2 separate regions of the Homo sapiens genome follow, and region 2 is linked to region 1. A link means that fine-mapping ties the variant in region 1 to the expression of a gene that starts in the linked region. Tissue or cell type: whole blood. Region 1 holds a variant in brackets; the other region holds the start of a gene. All regions are shown on one strand. Distances are from middle to middle.

What was found. PIP is the estimated chance that this variant, and not a neighbour inherited with it, causes the effect.
Region 2: ELOA-AS1 starts here. The variant in region 1 is fine-mapped to the expression of ELOA-AS1 in whole blood (TOPMed, PIP above 0.99).

The regions. Positions count from the first base shown.
Region 1 is chr1:23,812,465-23,816,623 of GRCh38, reverse strand. It overlaps HMGCL (3-hydroxy-3-methylglutaryl-CoA lyase), which reads left to right. Exons shown (of 9, transcript NM_000191.3): 5 at 2,286-2,434. Among named protein-coding and RNA genes, the nearest start is that of HMGCL, 11 kb to the left of the region's middle. The variant C/A (reference allele first, on the strand shown) is at 2,458.
Region 2 is chr1:23,776,097-23,780,255 of GRCh38, reverse strand. It overlaps ELOA-AS1 (ELOA antisense RNA 1), which reads left to right and starts at 1,959. Exons shown (of 4, transcript NR_038280.1): 1 at 1,959-2,057. PITHD1 (PITH domain containing 1) reads right to left here and starts at 1,838. Exons shown (of 6, transcript NM_020362.5): 1 at 1,543-1,838; 2 at 775-818; 3 at 315-392. The coding sequence starts at 1,740. RefSeq lists enhancers at 1-908, 2,162-3,114 and silencers at 1,459-1,508, 1,599-1,908.

The DNA of each region.
Region 1 (4,159 bases):
GGTCCCTGCCTTGTCTTGGCGCCTCAGTCCCCTGTCCTGGGATGTCCATCTGAATAGCTTGTCTGTCAGCCAGACCCTGGGGCAAACCTGGCCCTGCCACTCACTGCTCTGTGATCTTGACAAGTTGACAAGCCTATAAAATAGGGCTAAATGATAGTACCTGAAGTTGTGAGCATTTCAGAAGATAGGATGCATGTACATTGCTTAGCAAGAGCCAGATAAAAGGTAACTGCTTAATAAATGTTAGCTCTTTTGATTATCCACTTCTTTAGAGAAATGTAACCAAACTCTCCACAAGAGTTTCAACAGTAGTTGCTGGCATCTGCCAACTTTCTTACAATTTTAGACAAGAACATCTTTGGAGGCGTTGGTTCTGTATTTAGGCAAAAACCTTTTTTTGGCTGGGCACAGTGGCTCACACCTATAATCCCAGCACTTTGGGAGGCTGAGGCCGGAGAACAGCTTGAGGCCAGAAGCTTGAGACCAGCCTGAGCAACATAAGGAGACCTTGTCTCTACAAAAAAAAAAAAAAAAATCAATTAGCTGGCTGTGATGGCATGCACCTGTAGTCCTAGCTACTCGGGAGACTGAGGCACAGGATGGCTTGAGACTAGGAGTTCGAGGCTGCAGTGAGCCATGATAATACCGCTGCACTCTTCCAGCCTGGGTGACACAGCAAGAAAAAAAAAAAAGCTTTTTCTCAAGAGTGACTTCCAGGGTGGTGATGGCAGTGGTGGTGGTTTCCTTGGGGAAAATCAAAGTTTTTTTTTTTTTAATTAAGAGAAATTACTGTGTTTGTTTCCTAGTGCTACTGTAAGAAAGCACTACAGGCCGGGCGCGGTGGCTCACGCCTGTAATCCTAGCACTTTGGGAGACCAGGGCGGGCGGATCATGAGGTCAGGAGATCGAGACCATCCTGGCTAACACGATGAAACCCCGTCTCTACTAAAAATACAAAAAATTAGCCAGGCTTGGTGGCAGGTACCTGTAATCCTAGCTACTCAGGAGGCTGAGGCAGGAGAATCACTTGAACCCGGAAGGCGGAGGTTGCAGTGAGCCAAGATCATGCCACTGCATTCCAGCCTGGGTGACAGAGCAAGACTTTGTCTCAAAAAAAGAAAAAAGAAAAAAAAAAAGAAAGCACTACAAATTGGGTGGCTTAAAAACAACAGAAATTTATTCTCTCACAGTCTGGAGGCCAGAAGTCCCAAATCAAGGTGTCAGCAGGATTGGTTCCTTCTGAGGCCTCTGGGAGAATCTGTCCTATGCCTCTCTGCTGGGGTCTGGTGGTGGCCAGCAGTCCTTGGCATTGCCTGGCTTGTAGATGCATCTCTCCAGTCTTTGCCTCCGTTTTCCCAGGGCCACCTTTTCTGTGTCTCTGTGTCTTCACTTGGCCATCTTTTGTTTTTGTTTTTTTTAGACAGAGTCTTGCTCTGTCGCCCAGGCTGGAGTACAGTGGCATGATCTCGGCTCACTGCAAGCTCCACCTCCCAGGTTCAAGTGATTCTCCCACCTCAGCCTCCCGAGTAGCTGGGACTACAGGCGTGTGCCACCACGACCGGCTAATTTTTTGTATTTTTAGTAGAGATGGGGTTTCACTGTGTTAGCCAGGATGGTCTCGATCTCCTGACCTCATGATCTGCCCGCCTCGGCCTCCCAAAGTGCTGTGATTACAAGCGTGAGCCACTGCGCCCGGCTGGCCATCTTTTTTTAAGGTCACCAGTCGTATGGGATTAGGGGCCCACCCTATTCCAGTATGGCTTCATCTTAACTAATGATATCTGCAATGACGCTGTTTCCAAATAAGGTCACATTCTGAGGTGCTGGGTTTTAATCCTTCAACATATATTTTTAGGAGGACACAATTCAACCCATAACATTCACATAACATAAAATTTACCTTAAGAGAAATTTTTTGCTACTCTGTGTCAGTGTTCTTTAAAGAGAAAAGTGCTGGCCGGGCATGATGGCTGACACCTGTAATCTCAGCACTTTGGGAGGCTGAGGTGGGTGGATCACAAGGTCAGGAGTTCGAAACCAGCCTGACCAACATGGTGAAACGCTGTCTCTACTAAAAATACAAAAATTAGCCGGGCGTGGTGGTGGGCTCCTGTAATCCCAGCTACTCAGGAGGCTGAGGCAGGAGAATCGCTTGAACCCAGGAGGTGGAGGTTGCAGTGAGCCGAGATCATGCCACTGCACTCCAGCCTGGGCAACAAAGCAAGACTCCATCTCAAACAAAAAAAGAGAAAAGTGCTGAAAGGAGTTCACCTGGATGTTGGCAGGTTGCTGCTGGAGCCAAGGAAGTAGTCATCTTTGGAGCTGCCTCAGAGCTCTTCACCAAGAAGAACATCAATTGTTCCATAGAGGAGAGTTTTCAGAGGTTTGACGCAATCCTGAAGGCAGCGCAGTCAGCCAATATTTCTGTGCGGGGGTGAGTCAGAGCACATTGGTATC[C/A]TTTCCTCTGTACCGTTCTGGAATGGGGCTAGACTCTGACTCAAGTGGTCCTCCTGCCACAAACTTCTTATCCTGGGTGGGGGCAGCCTGAGCTCCACACCTAGACATCTTTTCCCAAATAAGTGTGGTCAGAAGAAATCCTAGGAAGTACTTTCTCTCAAACCTGAATTTTGGGTCAGTTTACCAGCTAGCCATGATAGCATGCGCCTGTAGTCCTAGCAACTTGGGAGACTGAGGCAGAGGATGGCTTGAGACCAGGAGTTTGAGGCTGCAGTGAGCCATGATAGCACCACTGCTATCATGCTAAAGGAATCTAGCAGGACAGGACACTAACGGGTTTGTGGAGGTCAGTTGAGTCCTGGCTTTATCACTAGCTCTTCACACATCCCTGGAGAATTACCTAGGCTTCTATGTTTCCAACATCACATCTCTAATATCAGTGGTTCCAGGCATTGTGTGTGTATTATCTATAATAATTGAAACCTCACAATAGCCCAGCAGGGAGTAGGTTATCCTCACTTTATAAATTACAAAACCGAGGCCCAGGAAGGGCGAATACTCTACTGTAAGGTCACACTGCTGTGCAAATTGCAGCCAGAGGCCGGGCATGGTGGCTCACACCTGTAATCCCAGCACTTTGGGAGGACAAGGCAGGTGGATCACCTGAGGTCAAGAGTTCAAGACCAGCCTGGCCGACATGGTGAAACCCCATCTCTACTAAAAATACAAAAATTAGCTGGGCGTGGTAGTGGATAGAAACCCCGTCTTTACTAAAAATACAAAAATTAGCTGTAATTCCATCTACTTGGGAGGCTGAGGCAGGAGAATCACTTGAATCTGGGAGGCGGAGGTTGTGGTGAGCCGAGATCACACCACTGTACTCCGGCCTGGGTGACAGAGCAAAACTCCATCTCAAAAAAAAAAAAAAAAAAAAAAAAACATTGCAGCCAGAATGATCGTTGAAAAGTGCACATCTGGGCTGAACATGGTGGCTCATGCCTGTAATCCCAGCACTTTGGGAGGCCGAGGCGGGCAGATCACCTGAGGTAAGGAGTTTGAAACCAGCCTGGCCAACATGGGGAAACCCCATCTCTACTAAAAATACAAAAATTAGCCGGGCGTAGTGGCATGCACCTGTAATCCCAGCTACTCAGGAGGCTGAGGCGGGAGAATCACTTGAACCCAGGAGGCAGAGGTTGCAGTGAGCCAAGATCACGCCACTGCACTCCAGCCTAGGTGACAGAGTGAGACTCTGTCTCAAAAACAAAAACCAAAAAAACCCCACAAAAGTGCACATCTGATCACATCCCTCCTGGTTAAAAAGCTTTCAGTGACTAATCAAGTGCAGACTTTTTAATGAGGTTTACAAACCCTGCATGATTTGGTCCCGGCTCTTTTCTGTAGCCGTACCGTTCAAGTTCCCTTCTGGCCCCTGCTTCCTCTTCATGGTACACTCCAGCCCAACTGGAACTTCTTTCTGTTTGTCACATGCCTCCACTCTTGCCTCTGGGCCTTTGCACGTGCTCTCTCTAGACTCAGAACAACCTTCCTTGGGAGGCCAAGGTGGGCAGGTTGCTTCAGCCCAGGAGTTTGTGACTGGCTTGGGCCTGGGCAACATGGTGAAACCCCAGCTCTACAAAAAAAAAGCCAGGTGTGGTTGCATGTGCCTGTAGTCCCAGCTACTCAGGAGGCTAAGGTGGGA
Region 2 (4,159 bases), 36 kb after region 1:
TGCAGCTAGTTATTAAGAAAACTGCAGAGTCATCAACAAGTGACATTTACACAATGCTCTCTGAATGAATCATGTCATAGTAAGCACTTTGAAATATGAGACACGCTGTTGGGCCTAAAGATGCTTAATCTAAAAAAGTCATTAATTCAGGAAGAAATATATGTATTCCAATGCAGAATGAGAACAGGACCAAGATATTTTAAAAGGGGAAATATTAAACCCGGTAAGAAGAAAATGATACTATTCTGGAATAAAATGTTACCAGAAAAAGAGAATTAGGAGCTCCTTTGAGGGCCTAAGCCTTTGCCACTTACAGTCTCATCTCAGAGGGGTGTGAGTCATCATCCTCTCCCATTATAATGATGCCTTTGAGCTTGACATTGCCCGTAAATCTGCCAGAATGCAAAAGAGAAGGTTGTCAAACCTGAGTTTGAATACCTGTTTAGTTGTGTGACCCTGGGCAAGACCCTTCCCCTGTATGGGCTTCAGTTTACTCATCTGTCAACTTGTACTAGATAATTTCTAAGATCCTGTCTACCTCTAGCATTCTACAATTCTAAGAAATCTACCTCAATTTCTCAGTTATTGTTCTACAAATACATCTGTTTCCAGTCTGCACCAAGAAAGCTATGATGCTTTCCTCCTCAAACCCACCAAAGTAATTTATCCCATTTCTAGAAGCAAATGTGTGCTCTTGACACCAGTGAATGAATCCATCTGAGGCAACTGGGTACAGCCTATTTAGCCTGAGGTAGGCACCAAGGAGATACTTACGGAATATTAAACAGAAGCTCTTCATCTGCATCACTTTCAACAAACTGGAGGGGATGGGGAGGGGGGAGGAGAAAGCAACAAATATTTGCTGAGAGCCTACAATTTCAGGCATCTCCCACCCTGCTCTACAACTGGGGTGCAATGGGAAGAGTCACTCTCCCTTGGTTTTCCAAGACTTATTAACTTGAAGCTAACCAGTCTTATCCAGTGTCATAACAGCCACAGGCCACCCAACTGGAAGGTTCTTAACAAAAAGCCCATGAATGAATTTCCAGGGTCGAAGAGCCTTCTGAAGTGTGAACTGAAAGGCAGGTGTTTATGTGCATTTTTCTGAGAAGAAGGTCCACTGCTTTCAAACAGATAGCAAAGGGGCCTGCGACCCCACAATGTAAAGAACATTTGCTCTATATGGGAACCACCTTTCATCTCCCTAGGCTCATCTTCACCAGGTAATATGATGAGGCAGCCATTAGCACCAATGGTCCAACGGCCCTCACGACCATCCTCTCTAGCCCACACAGCCCTGGAATAGAGCGTTAGGCTGTGTAGCTTGACAAAACTGTCCCCGTTCCCTCTAGGCCTCAGTTTCCCTATATGCAAAATGGGGAGACAACGCTGCTCGCCTCCCAAAGAGCTGGCAGGAGACAGGCACGGAAAAGCGCTTGGCAACCAGGCTGTCGTTATTCTTAACATCAGAAATGAGTAGACCGACGGCCCGAGGCCCCACACGCACCCTGCCCCGCCCGCCCCAAGCCCCAGGCGGCCCACCTTGGAGCGGTCGGTCCGCTCCTCCCACGGCTTGAAGACGCCGCGGCCGCTGCCCTCGCGGCTCTCGTTAAGGCATTGCAGCCGCTCCAGGTCGATGCGCAGGTACAGGCCGTAGGCCAGGCCGCGCTGCTCGGGCGGCTCCTCCCGTTCGGCGGCGCAGCGGCAGCCACCCCCGCCGTGGCTGTGACCGTGCGACATGGCAACGCCGCCACCTGCGCGTCCTCTCGGCCCCACCGCCGCGCTCGCTCGGCTCGGCTCGCCTCAGACCAGCTCCGCGCCGTTCAGCTCCGGCAACTAAGCGCGCCGCGCCTGCCGCGTCGTAAAAAGCGCCGCTGCGCGGCGCATGCGCGTGGGGAGAAGGCGGGGGGGCGGGGGGGGTGGGGTCGAGCGGAACTGACGTAGGACGCGCGCCTCCCAGGTGCCAGAGTTCGTATATGACTCCAGTCCTGGCGCTGGATGCTGCTGCTGTTCCAGCTTCCTAGGTGTGGAAACTGAAGGACCAAGAGATTAAACAGGTGTGCTGAGTAAACTCACAGGCTGAGATTCGAATTATCCTCCCCCGACGAGGATGGAGCCTTCGCTGTCTTCCTTGATCGCCACGTTTCTTTGCGAGCCGATGAAGGAAAGCGTGAGGAATGATAAGGCCCTGGAGACTGGAGAACGCGAGCTTATCGCTGTCTCACATGCGCACGGCTTAGACGTTGAGAGCTCACAGGCCCACTTGCATAACCACTTTCTTGATAGCGGGGTTACAGCTTGAGAGCATGGGGCTTTGTGCACGGCCAGACCTAAAGACTACTCCTGGGTCTGCTACTGGCCATTGTGACACCTTAAGTCATTTCCCCTATTCTGAGACTCCGTTTCCCCGTCTGTAAGGTGGAAAGAATAGTATCTGTTTCATAGGATCACAGTGAGTATTAAATGAAATAATGCAATTAAAGAACTCAGCAGGCCGGGCGCGGTGGCTCACGCCTGTAATCCCAGCACTTTGGGAGGCCGAGGCGGGCGGATCACGAGGTCAAAAGATCGAGACCATCCTAGCCAACATGATGAAACCCCGTCTCTACTAAAAATACAAAAATTAGCTAGGCGTGGTGGCGCGAGCCTGTAGTCCCAGCTACTCGGGAGGCTGAAGCAGGAGAATCGCTTGAACCCGGGAGGCAGAGGTTGCAGTGAGCCGACATCGCGCCACTGCACTCCAGCCTGGCGACAGAGCAAGACTCTGTCTCAAAAAGAAAAAAAAAGAAAAAACTCAGCAAATGGCTGACACATGATGGGCATTCAGTAGCCGATGGTTATTACGGTCAAATCCAACCACAGCAACTTACTAGCTGCGTGGCCTTGGGCAAGTGACTTGATCTTCTGAGACTCAGTTTACCCCCTGTGAAGTGAAGGGATTGGACTAGATGATCTCTGCGTTTCCTCCCCCATGTGATATTTCAAAGTACTTTTTTTCGAACAGCTGGTTGTGGCCTGTCAATAGGTTTTAAAATCCGTTTATAGAGAATTGTGATCAACATTTAAAAAAAAAATAGAATACAAAAAAAAAAAAACCCAGAATGTATCACACATTTCAAGTCTCAATTGATGAAACTTTTGTTTCAGTTTTGAGTTTGTATTCAGACACAATATGATGTGTTTTTCATATTGTGGGTTGAGATCAAAATAATTAAAAGTCACTGTTTAGAGGTGAAATAATCTTGTTTTCAGGATAGAATGTTTTCCTACTCCCTGGTGGGGAAAAGACAGGATACAGAAAGAGAGTTATGGGATACCCTGGCTACCCTCTTCCCTTCACATCTGGCTCTGGAGTGCTCAGTGGGGCTGGTGAAGTATAGACCAAAATATCCATTTTTTCAAGTTCCATTCAGAAATATTTTCTGGGCCACATGCAGTGCCTCATGCCTGTAATCTCAGCACTTTTGGGAGGCCAAGGTGGGAGGATCACTTGAGCCCAGGAGTTTGAGACTAGCCTGGGCAACATAGGGAGACCCCATCTTTACAAAAATAATTAAAAATATTAGCCCAGCATGGTGGCTCATGCCTGTGGTCCCAGCTATTTGGGAGGCTGAAGTGGAAGGATCTCCTGAGCCTGGGAGGGTGAGGCTGTAGTGAGCTGTAATCATACCACTGCACTCCAACCTGGGTGTCAGAGCAAGACTGTCTCAAAAAAATAAAAACAAGAAAAATATTTTGATGTCCTATTTTAGTTACTTGTGCAATAAGCAAGCTTGGTTCTGTTTCAAAATAGCTCAGTGCCGTGAATTATTCCTGCTTTTAGGTCACAGTTTCAGGTAAGGGACCTGGAATGTGGCAAACAGTAAATGTTTACTTGACTGATATACTTGGTAGCCTTTCTTTGGTAAGAGTGTCCTTTTGAAGAACCAACTCAGGCCTTACCCCGGAGATCTACTCATTTTGGCTTTTTCCTGTTGCCTTCATTAATGATTTATTTGAGCACTGTGTGCTAAGCACATTATGTAGTTCATCTCAATTAATTGTCACATGAACTTTAAGAGCTAGGTACAGCCAGGTGTGGTGGCTCACACCTGTAACACTTTGGGAGGCCGAGGCGGGTAGATCACTTGAGGTCAGGAGTTTGAGACCAGCCTGGCCA